Regions from separate parts of the Homo sapiens genome. Here regions 1, 2, 3 and 5 are each linked to region 4. Evidence: fine-mapped expression QTL. A gene starts in region 4. Each other region holds a variant in brackets. All regions are shown on one strand. Distances are from middle to middle. Region 1 has its middle 7.6 kb from the start of NPM2. Region 2 holds the start of LGI3 (leucine rich repeat LGI family member 3). Region 3 overlaps REEP4 (receptor accessory protein 4). Region 4 holds the start of FHIP2B (FHF complex subunit HOOK interacting protein 2B). Region 5 overlaps PEBP4 (phosphatidylethanolamine binding protein 4).

The links. PIP is the estimated chance that this variant, and not a neighbour inherited with it, causes the effect.
Region 1: its variant is fine-mapped to the expression of FHIP2B in whole blood (INTERVAL, PIP above 0.99).
Region 2: its variant is fine-mapped to the expression of FHIP2B in whole blood (TOPMed, PIP above 0.99).
Region 3: its variant is fine-mapped to the expression of FHIP2B in whole blood (TOPMed, PIP 0.90).
Region 5: its variant is fine-mapped to the expression of FHIP2B in vagina (GTEx, PIP above 0.99).

Annotation. Positions count from the first base shown.
Region 1 is chr8:22,013,329-22,019,654 of GRCh38, reverse strand. No RefSeq gene overlaps it. Among named protein-coding and RNA genes, the nearest start is that of NPM2, 7.6 kb to the left of the region's middle. The variant TTTTTG/G (reference allele first, on the strand shown) is at 3,458.
Region 2 is chr8:22,155,461-22,161,786 of GRCh38, reverse strand. LGI3 (leucine rich repeat LGI family member 3) reads left to right here and starts at 4,981. Exons shown (of 8, transcript NM_139278.4): 1 at 4,981-5,450; 2 at 6,324-6,326. The coding sequence starts at 5,245. It also overlaps a transcript of SFTPC not described here. RefSeq lists a cis regulatory region at 4,876 and an enhancer at 4,804-4,948. The variant C/T (reference allele first, on the strand shown) is at 3,616.
Region 3 is chr8:22,134,883-22,141,208 of GRCh38, reverse strand. It overlaps REEP4 (receptor accessory protein 4), which reads left to right. Exons shown (of 8, transcript NM_025232.4): 2 at 512-584; 3 at 961-1,037; 4 at 1,126-1,246; 5 at 1,680-1,793; 6 at 2,148-2,283; 7 at 2,416-2,570; 8 at 2,657-3,189. The coding sequence ends at 2,722. Among named protein-coding and RNA genes, the nearest start is that of REEP4, 3.9 kb to the left of the region's middle. RefSeq lists enhancers at 313-920, 921-1,529. The variant C/T (reference allele first, on the strand shown) is at 3,389.
Region 4 is chr8:22,086,238-22,092,563 of GRCh38, reverse strand. It overlaps FHIP2B (FHF complex subunit HOOK interacting protein 2B), which reads right to left and starts at 3,414. Exons shown (of 17, transcript NM_022749.7): 1 at 3,266-3,414. The coding sequence starts at 3,310. RefSeq lists enhancers at 2,535-2,674, 5,774-6,326 and silencers at 2,895-2,994, 3,185-3,244, 3,305-3,524.
Region 5 is chr8:22,911,100-22,917,425 of GRCh38, reverse strand. All of the region lies in intron 3 of PEBP4 (phosphatidylethanolamine binding protein 4), which reads left to right. Among named protein-coding and RNA genes, the nearest start is that of PEBP4, 14 kb to the left of the region's middle. RefSeq lists enhancers at 4,259-5,030, 5,031-5,802. The variant C/G (reference allele first, on the strand shown) is at 3,564.

The DNA.
Region 1 (6,326 bases), 73 kb after region 4:
CTCAAGCAATTCTCCTGCCTCAGCCTCCGGAGTAGCTGGGATTACAGGCATGTGCCACCACACCTGGCTAATTTTGTATTTTTAGGAGAGATGGGGTTTCTCCATGCTGGTCAGGCTGGTCTTGAACTCCTGACCTAAGGTGATCCACCTGCCTCAGCCTCCCAGAGTGCTGGGTTACAGGCGTAAGCCACCGCACCCGGCCTATTTATTTATTTATTTTTGAGGCAGAGTGTCACTCTGTTGCCCAGGTTGGAGTGCAGTGACGCGATCTCTGCTCACTGCAAGCTCCGCCTCCTGGGTTCACGCCATTCTCCTGCCTCAGGCTCCCGGGTAGCTGGGACTGCAGCCGCCTGCCATGGCGCCCAGCCATTTTTTTTTGGATTTTTAGCAGAGACGGGGTTTCACCGTGTTAGCCAGGATGGTCTCGATCTCCTGACCTCGTGATCTGCCCACCTCGGCCTCCCAAAGTGCTGGGATTACAGGTGTGAGCCACCGTGCCCGGCCTATTGTTTTATTTTGTTTTGAGACAGAGTCTTACTCTGATGCCCAGGCTGGAGTGCAGGGGCGTGATCTTGGCTCACTGTAACTTTTGCCTTCTGGGCTCAAGCGAATCTCCTTATTCAACCTCCTGAATGGCTGGGATTACAGGTGCCAGCCACCATGCCTAGCTAATATTTGTATTTTTAATAGAGATGCAGTTTCACCATGTTGGCCAGACCAGTCTTGAACTCCTGACCTCAAGTGATCTGCCCACCTTGGGCTCCCAAAGTGCTGGGATTACAAGCGTGAGCCATTGCACCCGGCCCCTTCTTTTCCAGTTTAGAAGCCTTTTATTTCTCTCTTACCTGGTTGTTCTGGCTAGTACTTACAGAACTGTGTTGAATACGACTGGTGAAGGTGGGCATCCTTGTCTTGCTCCAGTTCTTACAGGAAAGGCTTTCAGCTTTCTCCCATTCAGTATGTTAGCCTTCTGTGGGTTTGTCATATATGGCCTTTATTATGTTAAGGCATATTACGTGTATGCATAACTTGTTGAGAATTTTTATCATGAAGGGATGTAGACTTTTATCAAATGCTTTTTCTGCATTTATTGAGATGATTATATGGTTTTTGTCTCTCCTGGTATTCTTACCCTACAATTCCACCTAGGAAATTTCTCATCCATATATAAAGTTCATTGATTTTTTTTTTTAAAAAACCACCTTAATGAGGTATGATTGATGTGTAAAAGGCTGTACAGATTTAAGGTATACATCTTGTTGAGTTTGGGGATAAATATACGCCTATGAAACCCTCACCACCATCATGGCCATGAACATATCCATCAGCTCCCAAAGTTTTCTCTTGCCCTCTTTATTATTATTATTATTTATTTATTTATTTATTTTTTTGAGATGGAGTTTCGCTCTGTTGCCCAGGCTGGAGTGCAGTGGCATGATCTCAGCTCACTGCAACCTCTGCTTCCCAGGTTCAAGCCATTCTCCTGTCTCAGCCTCCCGAGTAGCTGGGACTACAGGCACCCACCACCAAGCCCAGCTAATTTTTTTATTTTTAGTAGAGACGAGGTTTCACCATGTTGGTCAGGCTGGTCTTGAACTCCTGACCTCGGGTGATCCACCTGCCTCAGCCTCCCAAAGTGCTGGGATTACAGATGTGAGCCACCATGCCTGGCCTGTGTTTTTTCATTAAGAACACTTACTGTAAGATCTATTCTTTTAGCAGATAGTAAGTATTCTACTGTAGTTACTAAGTATTGTTAGTTCTAGACACTGTGTTGCATACTGGACTCCAGATTTATTTTGCATAACTGAAACTTTGTACACTTTGACCATCACCTCCCCGTTTTCCTCTCCTCCCAGTGCCTGGCAACCATTCCTATACTCCTTGCTTTCGTTATTTTGACTATTTTAGATCCCACATGAGTGAGATCATGCACATTTGTCTTTCTGTGTCTGGTTTATTTCATTAAACATAATGCCCTCCAGGTCCAGCCAGGTTGTCCTAGAGGACTGAATTGCCTTCTTTTTCAAGGCTAAATAATATACCATTGTATGTATGTACTATTTTCTATATCCTGCGTCCATCAGTGGGTGTTTAAGCTGTTTTCATATTTTGGCTATTGTGAATAATGCTGTCATGAACACAAAAGTGCAGATATCCCTTTGAGATTCTAATTTCATTTCCTTTGGATATATAGTCAGGAGTGGGATTCCTGGAACACAGGTAATTCGATTTTTATTTTCTTGCTGACAGGTTTCACTCTGTCACTCATGCTGGAGTGCAGTGTGATCATGGCTCACTGCTGTCTTGAACTTCTAGGCTGAAGCGATCCTCCCACCTCAGCCTCCCACGTAGCTGGGACTACAGGTGTGCGCCACCATGTCTGGCTAATTTTTTTTTTTTTGGAGAGACAGGGTCTTGCTATGTTGTCCAAGCTGGTCTTGAATTCCTAGCCTCAAGCAATCCTCCCATCTTGGCATCCCAAAGCACCAGGATTACAGGCATGAGCCACTATGCCTGGCCTCTATTTTTAATTTTTTGAGGAACCTCCATACTCTTTTCCTTAGCAGCTTTTACATTCATTCCCACCAAGCATGTACAAATGTTCCTGTTTCTCCACATCCTCAACAATTGTTTTGTTTTTTTGAGGCAGGGTCTCCCTCTGCAGTCCAGGCTGGAGTGTGGTGGCATGATCACGACTCACTGCCACCTTGACCTCCTGTGCTCAAGCGATCCTTCTGCCTCAACTTTCTGAGTAGCTGGGACTATAGGTGTGTACCACTATGCCCAGTACATTTCTTGATTTTTTTTTTTGTAGAGTTGGGGTCTCACTATGTTGCCCAGGTTGCTCTTGAACTGCTGAGCTCAAGTGATCCTCTTGCCTCGGCCTCAACGTGCTGGGATTAGAGGCGTGGGCGATTTTTTTTTTTTTTTTTTTTTTAAGACGGAGTTTTTCACTGTTGCCCAGGCTGGAGTGCAGTGGTGTGATCTCAGCCCACTGCAACCTCCACCTCCCGGGTTCACACCATTCTCCTGCCTCAGCCTCCCAAGTAGGTGGGACTACAGGCACCCGCCACCACGCCTGACTACTTTTTTTTTGTATTTTTAGTAGAGACGGGGTTTCACCATGTTAGCCAGCATGGTCTCGATCTGCTGACCTCGTGATCCAGCCGCCTTGGCCTCCCAAAGTGCTGGGATTACAGGCATGAGCCACTGCGTCAGGCCCATTTTTTGTTTTTTGTTTTTTTAAATAATAGCTGTCCTAACAGGTGGTAGATGATATCTACTGTGATTTGATTTGCATTTCTCTGATGGTTAGTGATGTTGAAGCATCCTCTCATACACCTGTTGGCTGTTTGTCTTTTTGGAAAAATGTCTAGGTCTTTTCCATCTTTCTTTCTTTTTCTTTCTCCTCCCTCCCTCCCTTCTTTCCTTTTTTTTTTTTTTTTTTTTTTTT[TTTTTG/G]ATGGAGTCTCACTCTGTCCCCCAGGCTGGAGTGCTGTGGTGTGATCTTGGCTCACTGCAACTTTTGCCTTCCAGGTTCCAGTGATTCTCGTGCCTCAGTCTCCTGAGTAGCTGGGATTACAGGCATGCACCACCACACCCAGCTAAGTTTTTGTATTTTTAGTAGAGCCATGTTGGCCAGGCTGGTCTGAAATTCTTGGCCTCAAGCAATCTGCCTGCCTCGGCCTTCCAAAGTGCTGGGACTGCAGGCATGGGCCACCGCTCTGGCCTGGGTGGTCTTTTCTAAAATGGTGCCAGAGGAACTGGCTCTATCTCTTTGGCATGAGCTGGGCTTCTGCTGTGCAGGAATTAGCTTTTTCTTTTTAAATTAACTTTATTGAAAAATAATTTATATACAAAAAACTGCACTTGAACGGGCACAGTGGCGCACGCCTGTATTCCCAGTAATTTGGGAGGCCAAGACAGGATGATGGCTTGAGGTCAGGAGGTCAAGACCAGCCTGGGTGATAGAGTGAGACTCCGTTAAAAAAAAAAAAAAAATTAGGAAAAAAAGATTAGCCAGGTGGTATGACACGCTCCTGTAGTCCTAGCTACTTGGGAGCTGAGGTGGGAGGAGCACTTGAGCTTGGGAGTTTGAGGCTGCAGTGAGCTGTGGTCACACCACTGCACTCCAGCGACAGAGTGAGACTCTGTCTAAAAAAACCCAAAAAACTGCATTCATTTTAACTGTATAGTTTGATGAGTTGTGACAAATGTATACACCCATGTAGCATCACCCCAGTCAAGATATAATTTCCATTGTCCCTTCCTACTTTCCTTGTTTCCCTTTGCAGTCAATGCCCCCTGCCCCACCCCCTGCTATGCCTAACTGGCATTAGGCAAATGCTAATCTGCTTTCTGACATTACAGATTAGTATTGCCTGTTCTAGAACTTCATATAAGTAGAATCCTACAGGGTCTTTTTGTTGGCCTTTTTTTGCTAAGCAAAATGTGTTTGAGATTTATTTATTTATACTGGTGCTTGTATCAGCAGTTTGTTTCTTGTTTTGGTTGAGGAGTATCCCACAATTGGTCTATCCAGTCATCTGCCCGTTAGTGTTATGTGTCAACATGACTAGGCTATTGACCCAGTTATTCAAGCAAATATTAGTCTATGTGTTGCTATCAAGGTAATCTGTAGATGTGATTAACATCTACAATTCATTGACTTTGAGTTAAAGGAATTACCCTTGATGATGTGAGTATGCCTCACCCAATAAGTTGAAAGACTTCAGGAACAGAAGTGAGGTTTTCCTGAAGTCCTGCCTGGGGACTGCAGCTTCAGCTCCTTGCTCCTCTCCCCCTTCCAAGCTGCTCTTCCTGATGGCCTGCCCTATAGATTTCATACTCTCCTGGTTGGTGCTCATAATCACATGAGCCAATTCCTTGCAGTAAGTCCCTGTCAGATAGACCTGTTGGTGAACATTTGGGAACTTTCCAGTTTTAAACAATTGTGAATAAAACGGCTATGAATATTTGAGAGCAAGCCTTTGGATGTATGTTTTAACTTTTCTTGGGTAAACATCTAGGAGTGGAATTGCTGGATATGTGGTAAGCATATGTTAAGCTTTATATGAAACTGCAAAACTACTTTGACATGCTGTACCCTTTTATTTATTATTTTTATATTTGAGACAGGTTCTCACTCTGTTGTCCAGGCTGGAGTGCAGTGGCATGATCATGGTTCACTGTAGCCTTGACCTCCCCAGGCTCAGGTGATCCTCTCACCTCAGCCTCCCGTGTAGCTGCAACTACAGGCATGTGCCACCATGTCTGGCTATGCTGTACCATTTTACATTTCTACATATAATGTATAAGAATTCTTGCGATTCTCCTGCCTCAACCTCCCGAGTAGCTGGGACTACAGGCGTGTGCCACCACGCCCAGCTAATTTTTGTACTTTTTTTTTTTCAAGACGGAGTCTCACTCTGTCGCCCAGGCTGGAATGCAGTGGCGCAATCTCACCTCACTGCAACTTCCACCTCCCGGGTTCAAGCACTTCTCTGCCTCAGCCTCCTGAGTAGCTGGGATTACAGGCACCCACCACTATGCCCAGCTAATTTTTGCATTTTTAGCACAGACCGGGTTTCACCATCTTGTCCAGGCTGGTCTTGAACTCCTGACCTCGTGATGCACCCGCCTCAGCCTCCCAAAGTGCCGGGATTACAGGTGTGAGCCACTGTGCCCGACCTAATTTTTGTATTTTTAGTACAGACAGGGTTTCACCATGTTGGCCAGGATGGTCTCGATCTCTTGACCTTGTGATCCACCCGCCTCAGCTTCCCAAAGTGCTGGGATTACAGGAGTGAGCCACCGCACCCAGCCAATGTATAAGAATTCTAATTATTCTACATCTTTGCCTACACTTGGCATTCAGTGTTCTTAATTCTAGCCATTCTAGTGGATGTATAGTGGCATTTCATTGTAGTTTTTATTTGCATTTTCTTGATGACAAGTGATTTTGAGTTTCTTTTCAACGTGATTACTGGTCATTTGTAAATCTTATTTTACAAAATGCACGTTCAACTATTTTGTCCATTTTAAAGTTGGGTTATTCTTAGTGAGTTTTGTGTGTGTGTATGTGTTTCTTTTTTCTTTTTTTTTTTTTTTTTTGGACAAGGCCTTGCTCTGTTGCCCAGGCTGCAGTGCTGTGGTAACATCATGGCTCACTGCAGGCTCTGCCTCCCTGGCTCAAGTGATCCTCCCACTTCAGCCTCCCAAGTAGCTGGAATTACAGGAATGCACCACCATGCCTGGCTAATTAACTTTTTTGTTGTTGTTGTGGAAATGAGGTCTCACTATATTGCTCAGGCTGATCTTGAGCT
Region 2 (6,326 bases), 69 kb before region 4:
GTGACCAGGGTCTTATATGTGTCCGTAGGGAGAGGGGACAGAGGTGAAGGACCAAGCCCCCTGTGTGCCAGCCAAGCCCTTGGCTTTGAAGCCTGTTTGTTCCTGGCCCTCCAGAACCGAAGCCCAGATAAGCCCCCTGTGAGAGCCCCCAAGGGCCCTTGGCCCTGGCACATGAGTCCTCTTGGCCCCAGCAAGAGCAAACCTGGGTGAGTTGAGCAAACTTGCCCTCGGGCCATCTGCACTTCTCACCATGGGTGTCTTCCTGGCGTGCCTGCCTTCCTTGCTGGCACCTGCCCCTGCTGCCCTGTGGCTTTCCTTTTTCTTCTACCACCCTGAACCTTTCAGGTGGCCAAGGGTCTGACCATCATATTTCCCAGCAGAATTTCTAGATACATAGGGATGCGCTCCAGGAAGAGGGTTCTGGAGGCAGCACCTGTAGACTCTGAGAGGACTCTGCCCAAGGCAGGAGGTGCTTTGACATCAGTTTTCGGGGTTTCATAAATGTGCATTTCCCTGCAAGGACCAGTTCCAACTTCAAGTACTCTTTCCCTTACCTTGCCTCCTCCCACATATCTGGTACCAACCTCAAACTTGCCCCCAGTGATTATTTTCCTAATTCTGGAAACTCTGTCCCCACTGGTGGCAAGCTCTTACTCATGTGCAGTGCTTCCTTCTTTGCTCTGGGCTTGTCTGTCAATTGCAGGCTGTGCTGATGGCAGATTCCAGGTCTGACACTGCTTTCTTCTGCCCGGACAGCCCTGAACAGGGCTGGCTCTGGTCACTGGTGGGCTCCCAGTCTCCCCATCCTCGAATCAGCTCACTCACCCTGTGGTCTACACTCTACCCCTCTAGACTCCCCTTTCTGCATCCTCTGATCCTAAATTTGCCCTGAGAATAATACTCACCCAAATACGATCAGCTTTGAGGACTGTCTCCTTCTCTTTTCTCTGTCTTTCCTAGTGCCTTCCCAAAGCCATCTCTATGTATTTACGAGGTCAAATCTGCCAATGACTTTGGGCTGGCTCACCCTTTCTCTCAGGTTCCCTTTCACTCCTTGGGCCAGGTGGTCTCTAAAGTCCCTTCACCTCTAAACTCAGGTGACTGTGGCAGAGTCCAGGCCTGGGCTCGCTCCCTTAACCTCCTATCCTTTTGTTTTGTTTTGTTTTGTTTTGTTGTGAGACAGGGTCTCACTTTATCACCCAGGCTGGCATGCAGTAGCGAGATCACTGCTCACTGCAGCGTTGACCTCCTGGACTCCGGTGATCCTCACACCTCAGCATCCCAAGTAGCTGGGACTACCAGTGCATGCCATTGTGCCCAGCTAATTTTTGCTTGTTTTATAGAGATGAGTTTTCACCATGTTGCCCAGGCTGGTCTCGAACTCCTGGGCTCAAGTGATCTCGGCCTCCTAAAGTGCTAGGATTACAGGTGTGAGCCACCATGCCCAACCAGCCTCCTGTCCTTTAACATGCCACCCCAGTTCCTGTCCCCTGCCCCAGCCCCCTCCCACCTGGGCCCTGCCCTTCGGTCATGAGCTGGCAGGTTCCCCTGTCCCCCTCTCCATCTGGAGGGCCTTCAGCCCCAAGGTTGCATAACAGCATGGCATCTGAACTGAGAGCCCCTGAGAAGCGCAGGGAGGAAGAAAGGGAGGGAAGTGTTTGCTCCCACCACCCTCCTCACCCCCTTGCTGCCCCTTTAAATATTTGCCTAAGACTCCAGCAGCCAGAGAGTGTCCTAGGACAGTGAAAGGAGGGGAGGGGTGCCGGGAGGAGGGGGAGCCCACAGAAGCATCCTCTCAGCTCGGCCTCAGCTGTGTGCAGGTGCCAGATGTGGGAGACAGCTCGCCTGCAGTGCCCACCCCTGCCCTCCCCCAGGGCCCTTACTCCCGCCCCCATCATCCTGGCAACATTGGGATTGATCGGCTGACTCACGAGTACTGGGCCTGAGCCAGGTGGGCAGCTGGCCAGCGGGAGAGCCAAGCACTGCAGGCATCTCGGGGTCCCTGTGGGCATCTCGGGGGGCCATGTTGTTCTCACGTGGGACTTGTTCTTAGCAGGCACTGTGGGTGGGGTTTGCCGCCATCGCTGGGTGCTGGGAGAGGGATCTCTTTCTTTGAAAAAGCCTCTGCTCTTTCTGGTCCTTGGTCTCCCCTGCCTGTTGCCCTTAGGCTGTAGCTGTCACAAGCTCTGTGGCGGCTGCTGCTGCTGCTTCTTCTCCTTCTTTTTTTAAACCCATTTTTGCTTGCTTGAGGGCTGAGGGAGGGTGCCTGCCTCCTGGAGTGCTCACACCAACCAAGTGAAGGTCTTGGGTTCCTTGGAGAAGGAGACACAGAAGGACCTTTAGCTGGGTGTGCCAAATTTCCCCCTCCCCCTACCAGCCCTGTCTGCAGCCTTCTCACTTTTTGGCCTGTACTTAAGCCGTTTCTCCCTCTGTGAAAGCCCACCTCCAATCCCTCTCCACTTCTCCGGTTTTATTTTTATTTTATTTATTTAATTATTTAGAGACAGGGTCTCACTCTGTTACCCAAGCTGCAGTGCAGTGGTGCAATCACAGCTTCATAGCTCACTGCAGCGTTGATCTCCTGGCCTCGTGTGATCCTCCTACCTTGGCCTTCCAAAGTGCTGAGATTACAGGCGTGAACAGTGCATCTGACCTTCCACCTCTCTGAATGCCACCCACCCAAACAGGCCAAGAGCCAATGGCACCTGCTCTGCGACCTCACTCCAGTTCATGGTGCCCTCTGAAATCCTCAGCCTCTCTGTGGCACCTTCACCTGCCATTCAGCACACATGAATGTTCCCATGAGTTACATGGGCGCTTTTTGTTGCTCTATCTTCCAGCCCAATTGCGGGCCCTGGGAAAGAAAGGAGCACGCTTCCTGCGGGCTTCTTTGAACCTGCCACTGGGCAGGAAGCATGCAAACAGCCAACACTTAATGATAGTCAATGATGAGACCAATACCAACAGCGGTCAATAGTCCATGCCTTCAGTATGTGGAGGTCTCAGTGCTTCCACTGGCCAGCTCTGGGACCCAGCGTGAGTCGTTCTGCTTTGTTAGGCATTAGTATGTTCATCTGTGAGATGGGTCAGGTACTAGCTGTCCACCTCACTATGCTATTATGAGGACCTAATAGCATCATGGGTGTGACATCCAGTCATCCTCATTAGCATCATCTACTTCATCCTCTAGGGGACCTCTCACTAGCTAAGAACACAGCCCAGACTCACCCTCTTTGTCTGTTTCTGGGTTGACTCCCTCTGAGAGCCCTGAGTGATGGACAGCCCCACGGTGGCCACCCCTTCTGTGTGGGCCTCCCCGTTTCCTCCTCCAGCCCCTCAGCTGCAGGGGTGGGGACAAGATTCACTTTGCTCTTTGTGTACTGGGCAGAGCCGTGCCAGGGACGGGTGGGGACAGTTGCCCAGCTGCCCCAGCCACCTCCCTACCCTCACTGCTTCCCTCCCCCCAAGCTGGCATGGGGAGGGCGGCTAAATGTGTGGCAGCAAGGAGACATCAAAGGGCAGGGGCATCCCTGGCTGGGAGAACACAACTTAAGCTCAGACCAGAGAATCCCCTGCTGGCAGAGTCTGGGGACAGCTGGGGAAGCATCTTAAAGC[C/T]AGTGGTCTTCGTTCCCTGGACTGGTGTGCAAAAAGCACAAGACTAGAAGCCCAGGCAGCTGACAGCCAGGCTCCCCTTGCCCCGTGCCTATGAGCTCTTAGGACAGTCATCCTCCGCCACAGGGGAGCTAACGTGGTAGAGAGCAGCAGTCTTCAAGCTTTTTGTTTTCAGGACCCCTTAACACTCTCAAAAAGTATTGAGGACCCCCAAGAGCTTTTGTTTATGTGGGATATGTCTGTTGATATTTACTGAGAAATTACATTTTTATTTACATGTGAATTTAAAATATCAGTAATAAACCCAATATAGGTTATGACATAAATCACATTTTTAATGGAAAAACGATTTTACAAAGCAAAATTATTTTACAAAGCAAAATAAAATTAGAGAGAAAGTGTCATTTCTTTACAGTTTTGGAAATCTTTTAAATTTGGAGCTTCATAGAAGTGAAAAGGGCAAATCATGTCTTAACAATATTAGGAAAATTGTTTTTACCTCAGAGACTTCCTGAAAGGTTCTCAAGGACCCCCGGGCTCCCAGGGCTACACTTGGAAGAGCCGTGCATGGAAGGACGACCGTGAACCTTGAAGCTGGGCAGAGTGGGCGGAAATCCCTGCTGATACCTTTTTCTTCTGGTGCGACAGGCCTCACTTTTCTTGTCTGTAAAAGGGAATTACTATCACCTGCCTCAAACGATTGAGAGGATTAAGTAGGGAAAGTACAGAGCACTTGCGATAGCAAGCTTAGGGGGCCTCAGTTTCCTCATTTGTTAGACAAAGGGCTGGACTGAAAAATATCCAAAGCGCTTCCCAGCTTTAACAGGCTGTGGTTGAGCGTGAGAAATGTTCCAGAATTCCACACAGTCCCACTCCAGCTCCAGAGGCTGCGTTTCCCTTTTCAGCTCATGCTGACACAAAGGTACATTCTGTTCAGCGGCGCGTGGAAAAACATGTGAATCCGGTTAGAAGCGCACTTCAGACTCCTCCAGGACGCCCTTGTGCTTCTAATCTTGCATGCTAACTTAGATATGCGTCTGTCACTCACGACATGCCCATGATGCTGCCTAGGGGATGTGTCCCCCCATGCAAAGAAACCCAGGTAGACAGAAGCACAGGGATCCCTAACGCCGAAGCGCCTCCACAAGGCAGTGAGTGCATGTGCCCGTGCAGAGACAGGTGAGCACCGGCGCGCACAGTCGTGCCCAGCAGAGGCACAAGCACAAGCTCACACGCATGCACTCACGCGCAGCCCCACACGCGGATGGCCCCAGAGACCGCCCGGTAGAGCACACAGCGGCCACGCCTCCCCTTCCGTGACTCCCAGGCCCCGCGCCGCCCCGCGCGCGCCCCCGCCGCCCGCGCCGCAGTCCGCAGCCACCCGGCGCGGTCAGCCCCGGCTGCGGCTCCAGCTCCGCGCTCCGCTCTTCTCTCCCGAGCCGGATCGCGGGAGCGAGCAGGGGAGGGGACCGCAGCCGGCGCCCGAGGGCAGGAGGAGTCCGCAGGCGGGCCCCTGGCTGCGGTAGCAGCTGCCGGTGGCAGGGAGGTGCCAGCCCGCGCGGGGTGGCCCAGCCGCGGGAGCGGTGGGGCGGGGGCCGCGGCCGCCGGCCCCAGGGAGAGATCGCGGGCAGCATGGCGGGGCTGCGGGCCAGGGGGGGCCCGGGGCCGGGGCTGCTGGCGCTCTCCGCGCTCGGCTTCTGCCTCATGCTGCAAGTCAGCGCTAAGAGGCCCCCCAAGACGCCCCCCTGCCCGCCCAGCTGCTCTTGCACCAGGGACACCGCCTTCTGCGTGGACTCAAAGGCGGTGCCCAGGAACCTGCCCTCGGAGGTCATCTCCCTGTGAGTGTCCAGCCCTGGCCTTGGGGGTTGGGGAGGGAGAGGAGGCCGAGGACAGCTCTGGGAGAGGACAGGAGAACCCCCGCTCCCCCTCTTCAGAGTGCGGGGACCAGGGGGACTGCAGGGGTCCTCAGGGCTGGAGATTCCAGGCACCAGTCGGGCAGGGAGTTCTGCAGTTTTGCAGGCTCAGCGGCCATGGGTGGGGAAAGCAGGAGTTCACCACCAAGAATGAATCATCATCACCACGAGCGACAGTGAGACCTACTGTGTGCTGTGCTCCAGACTTGGGGGGGTTGCTTACACGAGCATGTGGGCCCCTGCCTGTGATGTCACACCAAGGGCAGGAGAGTGGCGGCCAGAGCAGGATGAGAATGAGCTATGCCCTCCCAGCACCCTGGCATGGGGCACATGCCCGCCACTGACCAGCCACTTGGCACTCAGCTCGGCCAGCCTGTCACTCACAACAGCCAGCCTCAGGGGCTCCCCCTTGTCTGTGGGACCAGAGAGGTTGTGAGGTCCTTGGGGACCAGGATGCCAGCCCCCACCCCCATGCCCCATCTCTCAACAGCACCCAGCCCATTGTGGGTGTTTGGATGATGATGACAACGGTGTGGGTGATGGAACCTTTTCTTGCCTGAGAGGGAAGCTGAGCCTGGGGCCATGGGTGCCCCAAGAGGCAATAGGGGAGGACCCTGGTGAAGGCAGGCAGTGAATTTGGGAGGAGAAGGGAAAGACACACAGATGGGGGCTAAATTAGGTGAAATGGGGCATTTCCAGGGCAAGTGAGTACAAAAGCTACTGCCCTCCGTGTTCACCTCTCCCTGCCTCAGCACAGCCCTTGCAGACCCCACAGTACTGACTCGGGTGTCCCCGCAGGAC
Region 3 (6,326 bases), 49 kb before region 4:
CGTGGAGCCGAGGGCCACAGGCCTACCTTGCTGCCCCTTGGCAAACACAAGGTGATATGGCACGTTGTGGGCGGAGAATCCAGGTGCCTGCTTGCCATCTGAGCAGTCACATGACTCACCATCCTATTCCTCACCTTTGAGTATGCCAACATCTGGCTCACATAGCCCTATCTGCAACCCAGCAGTGTCAGGTCTGGTGACCCTGGGCCTGATTGCATGCCCATGGGAGGGGACAGTCTGGTGTTCTCACCCACTTCGTGGAGTGGCTGTCCTCTCACTCCATCATGCACCCATGGGCCACCGGTGCAGGCCTGGGCAGGCTTGGGATGTTTGTAAACAGCAGGGTGGGGAGGTGGCCTCCAGGGCTCTGACTCAGGCACGGGTTGTACAAGCCAAGCGAGAAAAACAGGGCGGGTACTGCCACCTTGCACCCCAGTGGGGGGAAATGGCCACTTGGCAAGGTGGGAGTGGGGCATGGTGCCCCTCACACTCCCCATGGCTGCTCTTCCAGGCTGGTGTTTGGGATGCTGTGTCCAGCTTATGCTTCCTATAAGGCTGTGAAGACCAAGAACATTCGTGAATATGTGAGCGTGGGGGTTTGGGTGTGTTTAATAGGACTTGGTGAGGTGGGGAGGGTCTCAGTTGGCCTCTCCCTCCTCCAGGGGCAAGGCTGTGTGGCACATCCTGAGTGGAGTGGGGAGGGAGAGAGAATGGGCCCTGTTCAAGAGGGTGTAGATAGAGGGCAGGCCATCGGGGTGCCTGTGGAAGATCTGGTGGGTGAAGCTTGTTGGAGGCGGGCATAGGAATGAGCAGCAGTTTCTCAGAGCTCCTGTCCAGCCATGTGTGGGGGAAAGCAGCTATGCAGCCGGACAGGCTCCCTGGAATCTCTGGGCTGGGCTGGCCTGGGTTGGGAGTTGGTGCTGCAGGCCCCATGCTGACCTCTGGGCGCTCACCCCACAGGTGCGGTGGATGATGTACTGGATTGTTTTTGCACTCTTCATGGCAGCAGAGATCGTTACAGACATTTTTATCTCCTGGTATGGACGCAGGGTCCGCAAGCCATGGGTCAGGGGTGGCCCCCCCAGCCCTGCTCCTTGGCTCACCCTGCCCCTTGTGCTGTGACAGGTTCCCTTTCTACTATGAGATCAAGATGGCCTTCGTGCTGTGGCTGCTCTCACCCTACACCAAGGGCGCCAGCCTGCTTTACCGCAAGTTTGTCCACCCGTCCCTGTCCCGCCATGAGAAGGTACCCCAGGGGGAAGCGGGAAGGGAGGCTTAGGGGTGGGTATGAGGGAAAGAGCCCTGGACCTGGGATTTAGGATGCTGGGGACACCGGGGTTCTATCCCAGTCCTGCTGCTATTGAGGGGCAGGACCTTGACAGGGCCCAGCCTACCTCATCTTCTGGGATAATCAGGTGGGGGTACACATGAATGACCTTTGAGGATGGAAATTGGTTTGGGGGTAGTGGTGGCGGCAGCTGGAGCATGGCCACTCATGGAGGTGTGAGCGGGTGGCAGCCCTGCTCTTGGTCTGTGTTTGTGGCCCGGATTTGTGGCTCTGGGCACCAGGTGGGGCTGGGCTGGGCTGGGTGGCGCCACAACCAGTGGCTTCTCAGAATCTGCAGAGGAAGAGGGACTCTGGCTGTCCACCTGAGCTCTCCTCCCCATTGGGTCCACAGGAGATCGACGCGTACATCGTGCAGGCCAAGGAGCGCAGCTACGAGACCGTGCTCAGCTTCGGGAAGCGGGGCCTCAACATTGCCGCCTCCGCTGCTGTGCAGGCTGCCACCAAGGTGCTCTGGGCCCCCAGCCCTCCAGCAGCCCCCATCCCACCCCTAAGGCCCTTTGGGCTCATTCAGCTCCTCTGCCAGGGAGCCCAGAGATGGCAGCCGGGGAGCAGGGGTGAGAAGGTGACGGGGGGGTATTGGCAGAAGCGTGGAGCTGGAGTCAGACCTTCCTTCCTGGCTCTGGCACTGAGCGTAAGCAGCGGCTCCTGCTCTCTGACTTTGGTTTCCTGTTGGTGCCACATTGGCGCGGGGCCAGAAGCTTGCTGAGCAGTTTTCACTTCTGCGTCTCAGCTCCGGTGATTAGCTGGTTGGCCAATATCCCTGGGCAGCCTCCCCGCTGAAGCCTCTTCCCCCTCGCAGAGTCAGGGGGCGCTGGCCGGCAGGCTGCGGAGCTTCTCCATGCAGGACCTGCGCTCCATCTCTGACGCACCTGCCCCTGCCTACCATGACCCCCTCTACCTGGAGGACCAGGTGTCCCACCGGAGGCCACCCATTGGTGAGCGGGCAGAGGGGCCCAGAGCCATGCCAGGAGGGATGGCTTCCTTCACTCACACCATGGCTTCCCCCAAGGCTCGAGGAAGGGCTGGCCTGGTCGCAGGCTTTCAGCTTCACCTCCTCCTCCACACAGGGTACCGGGCCGGGGGCCTGCAGGACAGCGACACCGAGGATGAGTGTTGGTCAGATACTGAGGCAGTCCCCCGGGCGCCAGCCCGGCCCCGAGAGAAGCCCCTAATCCGCAGCCAGAGCCTGCGTGTGGTCAAGAGGAAGCCACCGGTGCGGGAGGTCAGTGTGGGAGGACGACAGGAGGGAGGAGGGCTCTGCTGGCTGGTGCTCCCCACACCCTCATGCTGTGCCTCCCCTTTCCCCAGGGCACCTCGCGCTCCCTGAAGGTTCGGACGAGGAAAAAGACTGTGCCCTCAGACGTGGACAGCTAGGGTCTGCTGCATCTGCCCCCTTCTTACCTCGTGCCCTGCAGGGCTCCAGGGCTATTTGGAGGGACCTTGGGCTGCACATCTGGCCTGCCTGCACCAGCTGCCTGGGCCCCACCCTCCTGACTCCTGCTGATGGTTAAGGGCCGGGAGCAGATGCTGCCAAGGCCACATGCAGGGATGCACCCACAATGTACCAAAGCAGGCTGGGCCCAGGGTTCTATTTATTGCCTTGCTCTGCCCTCTCCCTTCCCCGGTTGTGGGACAAGAGCCCTCCCTGAACCCCTGCAACCCTCCCTGAACCCCTGCAAATGAAACCAAACGTCCACCTGGGTGTGTTCATTCCTTCCTGTCCTTCAAAGTACTTGATAGCCTTTCATAAGGCCTGGCACATGTGTCCTGGTTGTGTGTGTGTGTGTTGGTGAGTGAGGTCAGGTTTGCGAGTGTTTTGATAAATAAATACATAAAGGGGCTCTGTTTCTCCTGATTCTTACTCCCGTTGCTCGCCTCACACCCTTGAAATGGGACAGCCCAGTCCTAGCCTAGGTCTAAGGCTGAAGGAGCCCAGTCCTCTGGGGGAGACAGAACCATTGACAGAGAGTTGTGATGCAGCACATGGTTTCACGAAGGAGCTTTTGGGGAGTTTTGAGAGCACTGATGGGAAAGTGGGGA[C/T]GAGTCCAGAGGACTGGTCAGAACCCGAAACTTCAGTTAGGCCTTGGCAGGAAGGTGCAGCTATAGAGAAACCAGTGGGAGCACAGGCAGGAGGGGCTTGGGGCAGCACGTTAGTCCCATAGGGAGGTCGAAGCTAGGCAGAGGAGACCTGGGGAGGAGTATCTCCTCCAGGAGCCTGGAAGAAGGAGCCCCCTGGGGCAGCTCTGGGGACATTAAGTTCTGTAAACAGTCAGGTACCCGCAGGGGCACCATTGCACCTCTGAGGAGTGGCCACGAGAGGGCAGCAGTGTCTGGGATCTGGGCTGCCCCCGGCTTCCAGGTCAAGGAGGGTGGGGTTGGGAGACTGGCCAGAGCCTCGCCCTGCTGGGCCTGGCGGAACTCAGTGGCCCTCCCTGCTGCTTGTGGTCACTGGTCCTTGGCCTGCCCCATCCAAGGAGTCTCTGCTCTCCTGAGACCAAGGCTGTTTGCCTGGCTGGCTCCACTCCAACTCCTCCGATCCCTGGGGCAACCGGGGTACCCAGCTCTGCCCTCTACTGCCCCGGTGCTGGTCTCACCATGATGCCCGGGGTGCGCCCCTCTGCCACTGCTGCACCTGCTCCTCCTCCCTGCTTTTGATTGATTAAGCAAAGAGGTGGGTGAGAGTGTGGGATGAGAAGAGGGGAAATGGGGTGGTAACCTGGAGTGGCCCCAGAGAGTGTGGATTAACTCTTGGTGTGGGGATTATCCAGGTTTTATTTGGGGGAGGCTCTTAATCTGCTGCGGTGATTTAGCTTCTCACGTATAGGGGCTCACTGGCGTCCAACATGGCCTGCCTTTGCATCGTGGGGTTGTCTTATCGCTTCATTAATTCATTCAAAAATGAATCTTTATTGAGCCTCGAGCAGGTACCAGACATGTTGCCAGACACTGCAGGGATGCAGGCAGTAGTAACGGCTGGCGCCCAGAGTGTGGCTGCCCACGCAGACGCTGCTCTAAGCCCCTGGCATATATTAATTTAATTCTCATAACGATCTTTGGGGGGTGGGTACACACTAGTCTTACAGTCTCCATTTTCCAAACAGGAAAACAGGCACAGAGAGGGCAAGTGATTTGCCCAAGGTCACATAGCTAGTACATAGCAGAAGGGCTTGGAATCAGGCAGTCTGGCTCCAGAGTCTGTGCACTTAATCACTAAGCAGTACCAGAGTGAAGGAGATGATTCCTGCCTGGGAGGCAAGGACATGGAGACTAACATGTATGGAATATTTGTTGTGTGCCTGACCTTGTGCTGGGCATTTTACAGAGATGATTTCCTTGAATCCTCCCAACAAGCCTGTCAAATAGGGACTATATCCATTTTTTAAAACAGGTTCTCACTGAATCACCCATGCTAGAATACAGTGGAATGATCATAGTACACTGCAGCCTCGAACTCCCGGACTTAAGGGATCCTCCCACCTCAGCCTCCTGAGTAGCTTGGACTGCGGGCACTCTCCATCACACCTGGCTAATTACCATATTTTTTTGGTAAAGACGGGGTCTCACTATGTTGCCCAAGCTGTTCTTGAATTCTGGGGCTCAAGTGATCCATCTGCCTTGAACTCTGAAAGTGCTGGGATTACAGGCATGAGCCACTGCACCCACAGGGCTATACCCATTTTACAGATGAAAAACCGAGGCTTGGAGAGCCACAACAACTTGTGTACCATTGTGCTGCTTGTGAGTCGGGGACCCTGACTCCTGATGCACCTCTGCCTGGGAGTTGCGTTGATAGAGGCGGGCTGGCAGGATCCATGTACCCAAACCAAGAGAACAAAACCAGAGGGGCGCCGGGCACAGTGGCTCACCCTTGTAATCCCAGCACTTTGGGAGGCTGAGGCGGATGGATCACCTGAGGTCAGGAGTTCGAGACCAGCTGGCCAACATGGTGAAAACCTGTCTCTACTAAAAAAAACAAAAATTAGCCGGGCATGGTGGCGCGTGCCTGTAATCCAAGCTACTTGGGAGGCTGAGGCACAAGAATCGCTTGAGCCCGGGAGGCAGATGTTGCAGTGAGCCGAGATTGCACCACTGCACTCTAGCCTGGGTGACATAGCAAGACTCCATCTCCAGAAAAAAAAAAAAAATAACAAACCCAGAAGGGCATATGATGAATGGCAAAACAAAACGGAGTAAAAGAAAACAAGAGTTGGGGAGAGGCCTGAAGTCGTGGGGTGGTGAGGGAGATTTCACTGGGGTGGGGGCTTCACTTGCCCTCCCTCCTAGGATGGGTGCTTGGAGGGGGCCACACGGCCACCCAGGCCCCTTGGCAGAGCTTGCGATGCCTTGTCCTCACCATCTCATCAGACTGTCTCATGGCTCCGTGTGGCCCTATGCGTGCTGGCCTCTGACATGCTCTTCCTCCACCATCCAACTCTGTCCCATTTCTACTTGCCCTTTGAACCCCACTGAGACATCACCTCCACTGGAAGCCCTCCGCAAGCACTCCCTCACCTCGGAGTGGTTTGCTGTCTGGACCACACCACCTCTGTTCTTGCACAGACTTCTGTTGTTGCCTTGAGCATGTGACCTTTTCTCCCCCACTGTGTTGTGACTTCATAAAGGACAGACGTATTTTACACACTGTTGTAGCTCAGCCTGGAACAAATGGTCTAACCGAAGTGAAATACTTTTGTAACTTCGCGACTGGGTGGTGAAGTCCTGATCTCATTCTCTGATCTCCTCCATGAAGTTCCCCTGACTTCCCCAGGGTGGGACTAGAAGCATCTTGTAATCATTCATGAACAAGCCCAACACCCCCAGCGCCCAGCACAGGGCCAATACCTAAGAAGCCTGGAGGAGTTTTGCTGGTGAAAGAACAAATGCGTGAAGTGACCATATGTTCTGGGTGGGGGAGGCCGGGCGGGTGGGATGGCCTCGTGATTTCTGCCTTTGTGCCCTGCATCGCCTGGGGCCCACC
Region 4 (6,326 bases):
GTCTCACCGTCACTGAGGCTAGAGTGCAGTGGCACCATCTCAGCTCACTGTAACCTCCGCTTCCTGGGTTCAAGTGATTCTCCTGCCTCCCAAGTTGCTGGGATTACAGACATGTGCCACCACGCCTGGCTGATTTTTGTATTTTTAGTAGAGACGGGGTTTCACCATGTTGGCCAGGCTGGTCTCAAACTCCTGACCTCAAGTGGTCCGCCCACCTGGGCCTCCCAAAGTGCTGGGATTACAGGCATGAGCCACCACACCCGGCCATTGGCACCTTCTGAGCAGTGTTTTCGGAAGACTCATCTGGCAGTTGGCCTTGGGAGAGGAGGTAAAGGCAGGAAGAATATGCTTAGAAGGCCACTGCAACATGGGGAGGGAGGGATGACATTCACAGAACTGGAAACTCCCCTCAGTCCGCAGGGCATCTTGTCTTCTTGCAAAGCTAGTTGGTAGGGGCTGCAACCCTTCTCAAAAGTAGCACCACCCACAGTTATTCCAAATATTCCATCCCTGTGCAGTGACCGCATCTCACTACATTCTATGTGACAGTGCCTGCTGTGCTGAGCAATCATCTCTTCTGCTAGATGATGAGCTCCCTGAGAGCCAGGGTTCTGTGTTTTACAGCTAGCCTGCCCTCAATGGGCTCAGCACATAGTGAATACCCATGAATATTTACCAGATATCTCAGGAAACTCCTGGAGAGATTCTTTCCCTAGTTCCTTGTTTTAGAAAGTCCTCTGGCCCTTCACCAGCCCTACAATTATCTCATAATTTCTGTGATGGGGTCTCCTTTAGCCTCAAAATTGGCTTATAGTCTTTGAAAACCTTGAGCTGGGCTTTAACCAAAAAGAATACTCCAGTACGGCAGGAGACACGGGAGAGGCAGGTTAACCAGCACAGGCCATTAGAGAGCTGGTGACACAGGTGTGTGATCTTTACCTAACTCCACCACCAGCTATGATAACTCCAAACCAAAGGCACTAGACCCAACAATTTCTCTTTAACGATATTATTAGTGGCCAGACATGGTGGTGGCTCACACCTGTAATCCTAGCACTTTGGGAGGCCAAGGCAGGTGGATCACTTAAGGTCAGGAGTTCGAGACCAGCCTGGCCAACATGGCGAAACCTCATCTCTACTAAAATTACAAATATTAGCTGGGCGTGGTGGCGCAGCCCTGTAGTCCCAGCTACTCAGGAGGCTGAGGCAGGAGAACCACTTGAGGTGGAGGTTGCAGTCAGCTGAGATCGCCCCACTGCACTCCAGCCTGGGTGACAGTGGAAGACTCCATCTTAAAAAAAAAAAAAAAAAAAAAAAAAAAAAGCTGTAATGATTCCTAATCTGTTAGATCAGAAGAGGGCGGGAAGGAGCAGTCTTCCTACTCAATGAGTAATCAGTTGACTTACTAGGATCACACTTGGTGACCAAGGCTTGGGAAAGACCTAGACTGGCGACCTGAGGGTAGAGCACAAAAGAGGAATTCCCGTCTCCCTGTAGGGCCAACCACACCGCCCGGACATAGCCTATATGGTCAATACTAAAGGGCCCGGAAGATCACCTGCCTAAAAAGATCTCCCTCCACTGCCAAAATCTCCTGCCACTGATGCCTGTACTTCTGTCATTGGAAGCCTTAGAATTTGACTCCTAGCCGGGTGCGGTGGCTCATGCCTGTAATCCCACCACTTTGGGAGGCTAAGGATCGCTTGAGGCCAGGAGCTCAAGACCAGCCTGGGCAACATGTTGAAACCCTGTCTCTACAAAAAATACAAAAATTAGCCTGGCGTGGTGCCGCATGCCTGTAGTCCCAGCTACTCAGGAGGCTGAGGTGGGAGGATTGCTTGAGCCCAGGAGGTGGAGGCTGCAATGAGCGGAGATCGCACCACTGTAGTCTAGCCTGGGCTCAGAAATAAATAAATAAATAATAAAAAGAAAAGAAAAAGAAAGAAATTCACTCCTCAGGACTGAGGAACTGTCTGGCCTGTCTCACCTCCTGTAAATGGAGTGTTCCCCAGAGGTATGAATTGGTTTATCAGATCACTTTTGAAGATCACAGCTGTTTTGACTGGGGATGGGGGAAGGGGAAGAAAAATCATTTTGGAACCCTCTCTACCTGGATGCCCCAAGGCCCTGGCCCTGGGTCAACAGCAGGGCTGGGAAGGTGGAGGAAGTCATAGTTTCTGACTTTCTTCCCAACTTTGCCTAAGGCAAACTTCTTTCAACAGGAGCTCCCATGAGGGTTGGGGAGGAGGTGGTGGGGAGGAAGGAGGGTGAAACCCAAGACTTTCTCTCCTGAGAAAATCTGATACTCAACTCATCAATTGGGGGAAGATTTATACTAGGAGGCAGAAGTATTGCTGACTTTACAGACAGCTTCTTGGCAGAGTTACTTTCAACAGCGGGCACCCCCCCCACCCTACCGGGAATACCCCCACCCTTCCTACACAGCGCTACATCTTGCTGAACGAACCCTAGTAGTAGGCTGCCTGCCAGCCTGCAGCCCCAACAAAAAATGGCAAAAACACAAACTGACGGCACGTGAAACATCAATGGACTCTCCTCCCCGCACAGGGCCACCCAGGCCCCACCACGGGCGGCATGTCCCTAACTCAATTTGGCTTGTGAGGGGTCACAGCCACGCTGGAAACATCTGCACCCAATAGAAGGCGATTTCCCCGGCTGGGGGCCCACCAGCCTGCCCCGGGTCTTTACCCTTCGTGGGGACTTGGACCGGCAGGGCCTGCACTTCCCACGTCCCGGGGTGACGGGAAGGGCGTCCTGCACCCCAACAAGGTCCTGGAGTTGTCTGGGAGATCAGACCGAGGGGAAGGGACGGCGATTTTTTCAAGCCCAGGCGAGGCGGTGGGGTGGAGCGGAGGAAGGAGGCAGGCCCACCGGGACTGGGGGGAGGCGGCCTAGGGCCCCGGGGGGCAGGAAACACCCCAAGCGGTGACAGGGAGCGTCCCGGCGGAGGCGAGTTCGGGAATTGGGAGAGACTCCGGGGCCAGGACGCACAGACAGGAAGCGACGCGGGAGCAGGCCGGGGAGGTGGGGCGGTCGGGAGGAGTCTGGGAGCGGGACTGGGAAGAGCGAGGGGAAGCGGGGCGCGGCCGGGGAGGCAGAGGAAGGGGCGCCGCGGCCCGGGGGTCCCTGCCCGAGGGGGCCCGCGCCCGCCCGCCCTCCTGCGGGCCGCGCCCGGCTCCGCGCCCGCCCAGCCCGGCCTAGGCCCGCGACTCCCGGCGGCCCGGCCCGGCCCTGCCGGCCTCACCGCCCCCACGGCTTCCTGCAGCAGCGCCCCGAGCCGGCTCAGCATGATGGCGCCCGGCCCCCGGCTCCCGGGCGAAAGCGGCGGCGGCAGCGCTCTAGGCGGAGGAGGCAGCCCCGTGGCCCCGGCGGCCCCGGCGCGACGAGGGGGGCGGGGCCCGGCCGCTCCGCCCCTTCCCGGCCCGGCTGCGTGGCGCTGGCTAACCCCGGCTGGGGGCGCCCAGTCGGGCTGGGAACCGCCAGCGGTGGGCCCTGAGAGTTGGCTGGGAGGTGTTTTTTTTTTTTTTTTTTTTCTTTCCTTTCTTCCGAGACAGGGTCTCGCTTGGTCGCCCAGGCTGGAGTGTAGTGGCGCGATCTCTGCTCATTGCAGCCTCCAACTCCTGGACTCATGCGATCCTCCAACCCCGGCCTCCAGAGTAGCTGGGTCCACAGGCGCGCGCCACCACGCCTGGCCAATTGTTTTTTTTTTTTGTTTTTTTACTGGGAGGGGAGGTCTCACTGTGCTGCCTAGGATGATCTCCAGCTCCTGGCCTCAAGCGACCCTCCCGCCAGGGCCTCCTGAGTAGCTGGGATTAAGGCGGGAGCTAAGGGAGGTGTTTTCGAAGAGAAATTACAATTCCTCCTGAATTGAAGTCTCAGTCAGCCCCAGGCACATGGGCTGATGAGCTCCTGAAATGTGCTGGTCCCAACCAAGATGTGCCGTGCCAAGCACACCCCGATTTGGAAGATACAGTAAGAAAGGAAAGTGTGAAACTGCAACAACCATGGCTTATATTGATTACATATTGAAATGACTATTAGGTGTGTTGGGTTAAATAACGTATATTGTTAAAATTAACTTCACGTGTTGCTTTTTACTTTTTTGACAGGGCTATCAGAAAATGTTTATGGGCTGTGGGCGGTGGCTCACACCTGTAATCCCAGCACTTTGGGAGGCCAAGGCGGTTTGATCACTTGAGGCCAGGAGTTTGAGACCAGCCTGGCCAACATGGTGAAAACCCGTCTCTACTAAAAATACAAAAAAATTAGCCAAGCGTGGTGGTATGTGGAGGCTAAGGTGGGAGAATCACTTGAACCCGAGAGGCAGAGGTTGCAGTGAGCCAAGATCGTGCCAGTGCACTCCAGCCCGGGCAACAGAGTGAGACCGTCTCAAAAAAAAAAAAAAAAAAAAAAAAGTCTGCAGCTGAGTGTGGTGGCTCAAGCCTGAAATCCTAGCACTTTAGGAGGCCAAGGCTGTTGACCAGCCTGGGCAACATATGAAGATCCTGTCTTGACAAAAAATAAAAATACAAAATAACCAGGTGTGGTGGTATGTGCCTGTAGTCCAAGCTGCTCGGGAGACTGAGGTGGGAGGAGGATCACTTGAACCCAGGAGTTCGAGGCTGCAATGAGCTATGATCGTGCCCCTGCAGTCCAGACTGGGTGACAGCAAAATAGTGTCTCTCTAAGAAACAAAAACCAGTGTCTCTGCTTATCACTGACATCATATTGTGTCCGGAATTGGTAGGTTCATTGGTCTCACTGACTTCAAGAATGAAGCTGTAGACCCTTGCAGGGAGTGTTACAGCTCTTAAGGTGGCACGTCTGGAGTTTGCTCTGATGTTCGGATGTGTTTGGACTTTCTTCCTTCTAGTGGGTTCGATGGTCTCGCTGGCTTAGGGGTGAAGCTGCAGACCCTCGCGGTGAGTGCTACAGCTCTTAAGGCGGCGCGTCTGGAGTTTTTAGTTCCGCCTGTTGGGTTCGTGGTCTCGCTGACTTCAGGAGTGAAGCTGCACACCTTTGCCGTCAGTGTTACAGCTCACAAAAGCAGTGGGAAACCCAAAGAACGAACAGCAGCAACTTATTGCAAAAAGTGAAAGAAAAAAACTTCCACAGTGTGGAAAGGAACCCAAGCGAGTTGCCACTGCTACCTTGGGCAGCCTGCTTTTATTCTCTTATCTGGCCCCACCCTCATCCTGCTGATTGGTAGAGCCCAGTGGTCTGTTTTGACAGGGCGCTGATTGGTGCGTTTACAATCCCTGAGCTAGACACAAAGGTTCTCCACGTCCCCATCAGATTAACTAGATGCAGAGTGTTGACACAAAGGTTCTCCAAGGCCCCACCAGAGCAGCTAGACACAGAGTGTCGATTGGTGCACTCACAAACCCTGAGCTAGACACACGGTGCTGATTGGTGTGTTTACAAACCTTGAGCTAGATACAGAGTGCCCATTGGTGTATTTACAATCCCTGGGCTAGACATAAAGGTTCTCCACGTCCCCACCAGACTCAGGAGCCCAGCTGGCTTCACCGAGTGGATCCCGCACCGGGGCTGCAGGTGGAGCTGCCTGCCAGTCCCGCGCCGTGCTCCCGCGCCGTGCGCCCGCACTCCTCAGCCCTTGGGTGGTCGATGGGACTGGGCGCCCTGGAGCAGGGGGCGGCGCTCGTCGGGGAGGCTCCGGCCGCACAGGAGCCCACGGAGCGGGTGGGAGGCTCCGGTATGGGCGGGCTTCAGGTCCCGAGCGCTGCCCCGCGGGAAGGCAGCTAAGGCCCGGTGAGAAATCGAGCGCAGCGCCGGTGGGCTGGCACTGCTGGGGGACCCAGTACACCCTCCGCAGCTGCTGGCCCGGGTGCTAAGCCCCTCATTGCCCGGGGCCTGCAGGGCCGGCCGGCTGCTCCGAGTGCGGGGCCCGCCAAGCCCAAGCCCACCCGGAACTCCAGCTGGCCCGCAATCGCCGCGCGCAGCCCCGGTTCCCGTTCGTGCCTTTCCCTCCACACCTCCCTACAAGCTGAGGGAGCCGGCTCCGGCCTTGGCCAGCCCAGAAAGGGGCTCCCAAAGTGCAGCGGTGGGCTGAAGGGCTCCTCAAGTGCCGCCAAAGTGGGAACCCAGGCAGAGGAGGCGCCGAGAGCGCTGTGAGGACTGCCAGCACGCTGTCACCTCTCAATATGACGAGAGGGAAAGGAATCAGTTTCCCTCGGGAAGGAAGAATAGCCCCTGTCAGAATTATAGAACCTAGAGTTTTGGGGTCTCGGGCTTCACAGGACCTGCCTCACCTTTTAGGACCCATTCCCCAGTGGGGCTGAGGC
Region 5 (6,326 bases), 820 kb before region 4:
GGTGGGCAGGAAGGATAGTTCTTCCTAGGGAAGGTGGTAGTTGGAGCTTCCCTTAAGGGAGAGGGCATGACTGGTGAGGCTGGAGGAGCAAGTGCTACCTGGGTCCCTCAAGAAAAGGGTGCGGGGAGCCTGAGTGTTTAGGACAGAGAAGAGCATGAAGGTATTTCTTCTGGGCCTGATGGAGAAGGGCACGAGTTGGTGACTGCTATGTGGGGATGGTGCATTGCTTCCAAGGTGACTGAAGCAATGCCACCAAAGCAGTGACTGCCATTGGACATGCCTGGGAACACCCCCCCCTCCCCCGCCCCCAGCAAACTCCAAAGCCCTGGAAAGAGGGGTGCAGCAGTGCCTCTGTGCCCACCATAGAGCTTCCCACCTCCATATTCTGGCATTGGCCACTTCCCCATCCTTGGCGTCTTTGGACCCTGCTCCCGTCACAATGCTTCCTCCTCTAGGAAGCCTTCCCTGACTGCCTCCCTCTGGGCTCCACCTACATCCCTGGCTGATCTTTTCTTTCTCTGTGCTTTTAAAATGTTCCTACCCTCTAAACTGGGTTTTGACTTCCCTGTGTCTTGTGCTGTAGTTGCTCATTCCTGTCTCTCAAAGCTTCAAGCACTTTGTAAGTTAGGAGAGAAAGACTATGTGTTGTCTTTCTTTGAGTCACCCGTGGGCCCCACCAGCACCTCAGATGCCATGCTGGCTGACTGGGTGACTAGGTGAGAGAGTGAACAGGTGAATGCATGAATGCATGAATGCATGAATGAATGAATGAATGAATGACATGTGGGAGAGCATCTCCTGGAGTGTGAGCTATGAGCTGTGTCAGCCAAACTGTCGGCCCTTTCAGCATCTGTTGAAGGAAAGCTGCTAAACCTAGTGAACCCAGGGCAGCAGGACTCTCTCCTCCCCCTAGGGGTGGGGTGTGAGCTGGGGGGTGGGTGGGGAAGCAGGCAGAGAAAGAGAGGAAGTCAGGCAGGTTCATGAGAAGGCAAAGTAACACAGGAAAACGTGGCTGGCTCCCGTGCCAGCTATGGCTGAGCGAGAGAGGTGTGGAAGTAAGAGGAAGCGTTTCTCCCCTGGCGCTCTGACAAACATGAAGAGGCAAACATTTAAAAATGCATCCCGTTCTCAAGCCAAGGAAAACTGAAAGGCCCCTGAGAAGCTTCTTGACTGGGGGCTTATTCTCCACCTTAAATTTCGCCAGCTGGAATCCTTTTGAAGTGCAGAAATTGCCTTTAAGTGGGGAATGTGCATTGCATTACAGGGAGGGAACAAAAGGCTGCCTCGGTCTGTCCTGCTCTCCCTGGAGTTTCCAATCAGGCTTGGCCCAGGCACTATTTCTTCTCCTCACAAAGCAGGTGGCCCTGAGTGCCCTATCCACCTGGGTCAGTGCATTTCATGCCAGCCCAGGCCTCTAGCCGCAGCCTCCCAGGGAGCACCTTCTCGCCCTCATTGGCCCATGGTGGAGACACAAGTTTCAACCCAAATTTTCTAGAGGCCTGGAACTCTCCTCTCTATAAGAGAGCTCGGAACTCACAGGTCCACCGCCCCTACCAACCCTTCTCTGTATACACAGAGCAGAAAAATACAGGCTGCTGCAGTCACAAAATGATTAGCCGAGGAAGGACACGGGGCTCCCAACACCCACAGCAATTCTAGAAGAACAGACCCTAATGGATGGAGCAGAGACGTCTTCCAGTAGACTACATGTGGAGTCTCCTCTCCTACATGTGGAGGCGGTCAAGTGCAGGCCCACTGGCTCAGGGGACTGCAGCCGCCATGGACTATTTGGTGTTGGGGATGGGCGGTGACTCACTTCGTAAATATTACTGAACACATTGCATCAGGCACCATGTCAGTGCTATTGATTCAGAGACGAAAGACACTATCACGGAGCTTGCAGTATAGCTGGGGAGATAGACAGGTAGCGGGCAAGCATGGGGACACAGGGTGTCAGTGAGCCGGGACCCAGCAAGGGACAGATGGGAGCCAGGATGGTGAGGTGAGGGATGAGGCTTGTGGTTGGGTCGGGGGTCGGGGCGGGTAGGGCAGGGGCACATCCATGGTTAGGAGCCAAGAACTTCATGGCCCTGGTGTGGAGTTTAGAGTTTATCTTAAAGTTTGGCTGGTGGCTGGGGGAGGAGAGTCACCATTTGATTTTTAGGCTGGTAAATGTGATCAGATTTGCAATTTGGGAAGGTCACTCCAGCAGCAGGTGGAAGAATGGAAGAAAGGTAAGATTGAAGGCAAGGTGCCCACCCTGCAACCTAGGTGATGGCATGGACCATGGGCTGGGCTTAAAAGGTGTTAAGGACGTGGAACCCATAGAGCTTGGGGGCTGTGGGGATATTGGGGAGAGGGAGAGTCCAGATGACCCTCGGGTTTCTGTGATGAGCAGGCGAGTGGGTAACAATGAGGTTGAGTATATAATTTCTCATCTAAGACAGGACCCTTTTGAGACTAAAGGGGGATGCTGTTAATAGTTATGCCAGGACAATGTGTGTCATTGGGCATGGCGCTGGCAAGCTGGGGTATATGTTAACTCTAATAACGGTGCCTTCACCAAGAAGGGGACACAGAGAAGCACTGGGTTTTTTACAGGGATGGCAGCCATTGGCACCGACTTCTGCACAGAAACCCATAGAGTTTGAGGAGGCTGTAGCATCCAGAGGTAGCTGCCCGAGAGGCAGGTCTGCCATCTGACTCCAGAAGAGAAGGCAGGGCTGGGCACCTGGGTCTGCATCCTCAGTGTTCCAGCAGGCGTGGACTCTGAGAGGAGGACAGGTTTACCTGCGGGTAGGCTCTGCTATGCTCAACAGCAGCCAGCCAGAGAGGTTGGGTGAGGCCACAGGAAACGCACGCACTGCCTTACCCCAGCAAGCCACTGGTTACCCGTGTGAGGGGACCAAGGAGTGAATGAGGAGTGGATCCCATGGAGTAGGCTACTCACACCACCGCTTTGCCAGGGGAGAAGAGATGCCTGCGAATGTTTAAGTGCTGGCAGGGGCTGGGCACAGTATGTGTTCAGTAATATTTACGAAGTGGGTCACATCTCTAATCCCAGCACTTTGGGAGCCCAAGACAGGAGGATTTGCTTGAGGTCAGGAGTTAGAGACCCCATCTCTACAAAAAAATGAAGTTAACCAGGCCTTATGGTGGTTGATGCCTGTAATCCCAGCACTTTGGGAGGCTGAGGTGGGCAGATCACTTGAAGTCAGGAGATCAGCCTGGCAAACATGGTGAAACCCCATTTCTACTAAAAATACAAAACTTAGCTGGGTGTGGTGGCACATGCCTGTAATCCCAGGTACTTGGGAGGCTGAGATAGGAGAATCACTTGAACCCAGGAGGCAGAGGTTGCAGTGAGCCTAGATCGCGCCACTATACTCCAGCCTGGGCAACAGAGCAAGACTCTGTCTCAAAAAAAAAAAAAAAAAAAAGTAGCCAGGCCTGGTAGTTCACACCTGTAGTCCTAGGTACTGGGGAGGCTAAGGTGGGAAAATCACTTGAACCCAGGAGTTCAAGGCTGCAATAGGCTAAGGAGCTATGATTGTGCCACTGCA[C/G]TTCAGCCTGGGCAACAGAGCAAGACCCCAACTCTAAATAAATAAGTAAATTCTGGCAGGAAGGAGCCAATAAAAGGGCAGTGTCAAAATACAGCAGAAGGAGGGGTTGAGGGGTCGACTGGAAATGCTCATTCCAAGGTGATAAACGGTGTGAATGGTGGGAGTTAGGAGGATATTTCAAAGGGTGTCCAGCTCCTTTGGAGCCAATGGGACCTGGCCACTGACTGGAAGTCAGGGGTGGGAGGTGCCGGAGATGCTTCTGAGGGAAGAGGAGGAGGAAGGGGATAGTGGGCAGGAGGGGTGCAGGTGTGGCCGCAGGGGCTGGAGGGGGCTGCCCTATGCTGGCCCTGGGAGCTGGAGCTCAGCCAGCCAAGCCCCTACTGCAGGGGGAAGAGGCAATGTCATGAAATTGCAGGGTGGAAGGACTTTGGGGCAGAGCGTGGGGAATGATGATGTCACGGACATTGCAGAAGAAGTAAAGGTGCACAGAGGAGGGAGGTGCAGGGAAGAGGCAGGAATGGGGAGCAGGAGTCACCAGGCTCCACTGCTGGGAGAGGCTGCATGGGGCCAGGCTGGGGAAGAGCCACTGGATCTGGATCGTTCCAGGACTGCGGGCTGGGAGCAGAAGGTAAAGTCAGGACAGGGTAAGGGGCCACCCTGGGGAGATCACCAGTGCATCAGGTGAGGGTTTAGGGAAGAATTCATGAGATGCCACTGTATTTGGTGCCGAGCACCTAACTGGAGTTTCATGGATGGGATCAGTTGTCACTACAATAGAAAGAGATGGATTTGTAGTCTGAAGGACAGAAGACACAAAAGAAGAGTTGGACTTTCCAAGGTTCCAGGAGAACTGTGTGTGTTTGAGGCCCAGAGGCAGAGGGGACAGGAGGCCGCTGAGCTTGTAAATGAAGGGCTCAGGTGCTAACAGGCGGAGCCAGGTGTGGGAAGGCAGGTGAGGAGGGCGCGCAGCACCCAGGCAAGGACGAATCAGGTCATTTTATCCTTTGTCCCTGGCTCCTTCAGTGCAAGTAGTCAAAGTGCTAACATCACTCAGCTGTGTCCCACTCTAGCCCAGGTCCCCAGCCAGGTCATCCGGGGCTCCTCTGGGTGCAACTGGACTGGGTGAAAGGGGAGTGAGGATTGTCAGCATTTCTAACCTTTGCAGTTAGATGTTCAGGTTGCAAAGACACTTCCTATGCAGGACTTCACAGGACAGATCCTCCTAGCAACATGGGGCGATGGATAGAGCGGGGATTATCCCCTTGATGACAGATGAGGGCGCTGCCCAGGGTCACACTTGCCAAACCTGGGAAGTGGGAGAACCAGCCCCGGATGGCAGCTTCCCTGGCTTGCAGTCAACTACCTTTCACCTATGTAATTTTGCCTCCGGAATCCCCCGGTTCCTGAAAACAGGCCTGTAATGTTGACAGTGGAGAGGGGGTGTCATTCAGTCATTCATGTATTCACTGGAGCAGATCCGGATGGAGCTCCACTCTCTGCCCCTCTGCCAGGTACTGTTCCGGTAGTGAGGGATACACACAGAACGCACCCCTGCCCTGCCTGTGATGGGCATCTTGCAATAGTGAGAATGTCCATTGTTGTTGTTATCACTTGTCTGTTAAACACTTAATGGCTGAGGGGAAACCTTAACAGAACGGCCACGTGCTCCGGCGACTGTCTTACTCAGGGTGGCTCCATTAGGAGGATTCCCAGTCTTAATCTTCACTCCCAGGGCTCCTTATCCTCGTGGCCTTCTCTGTCATTCCAGAACTTCCTGCCAGACCTGAACCTGCCCCCAGCAGCTTTTAATCAAACAGCGCCCCCCCTTACCCAATCCGCCACCCCCAGTCCGATAGATCTTGCCGGCAGCTCAGGCAGGCAGGGTGCACGCTCAGCGATTGGGCCGCTGACATCCACTGAAAGCTCCCAGCCAAGTGCTGGGGAAACAGGTTCCAGATGTTTCTCAGATCAAATACTGTTTCTTTGAAAAAAACTGTGTGCGCTGATCTACCAAGGGGGCACATGGGACCTGAAAGGAGCACTCAATGGATTTGCATCCTGGGTTGTTTTTTTGTTTGTTTGTTTTAAAGGCATTGAACAAGCGTCAGTGTAGGGCTCTTCACATGTTTGGGATCTGTTCACAGCGGTATGTTGGGAGTGTCAGCAAAGGCTTCTTGGATTTTAAAATAGCTGCCGGCCTTTGTGGGAGCCATTTAGAAGGAAGAGCATTTTGAATGCTACAGGGACTTGTTGCCTGCTCTCACTGGTGAAAGAAGGTTGTGGCCTAAAGGGGAGTTTTGAGAAAGGTTTGGCAGATTTTTAGAAGAGCAGTATCATGTGTTATTTGTTAAAACTTGCCGGCTTGTGGGTGAGGGGTGGAGAGAAGGAGGTGGGTGGAGCTCCCAGCTCTGCTGTGGGGAGCTGCTGCTGGGAGGAGGTGCCCACTGCAGTCCAAAACCCCCACTGCCTGGTGGGGAGGTGAGAACTGCCAGAGGAGGGGGCTGCAGCAGCTGCTGGGGGCTGGGCTGGCAGGGGCAGTTGTCATAGGATCCCGACTTTGAGGGCATCTCTCATTCTTCCAGGGACCAGCGCACCCCTGACATGTTGGTCTTGTACTCGCAGAGTCCACTAGACCCCAATCATGGCCATGTGGGTGTCATGGCAGGCAGAGCAGGTATTAGTGTCTCTGTTTTACAGGCGAGGAAACAACAGATCAGGGAAAATTATTTATTTATTTTTAATAGACTTTATGTTTTAGAGCAG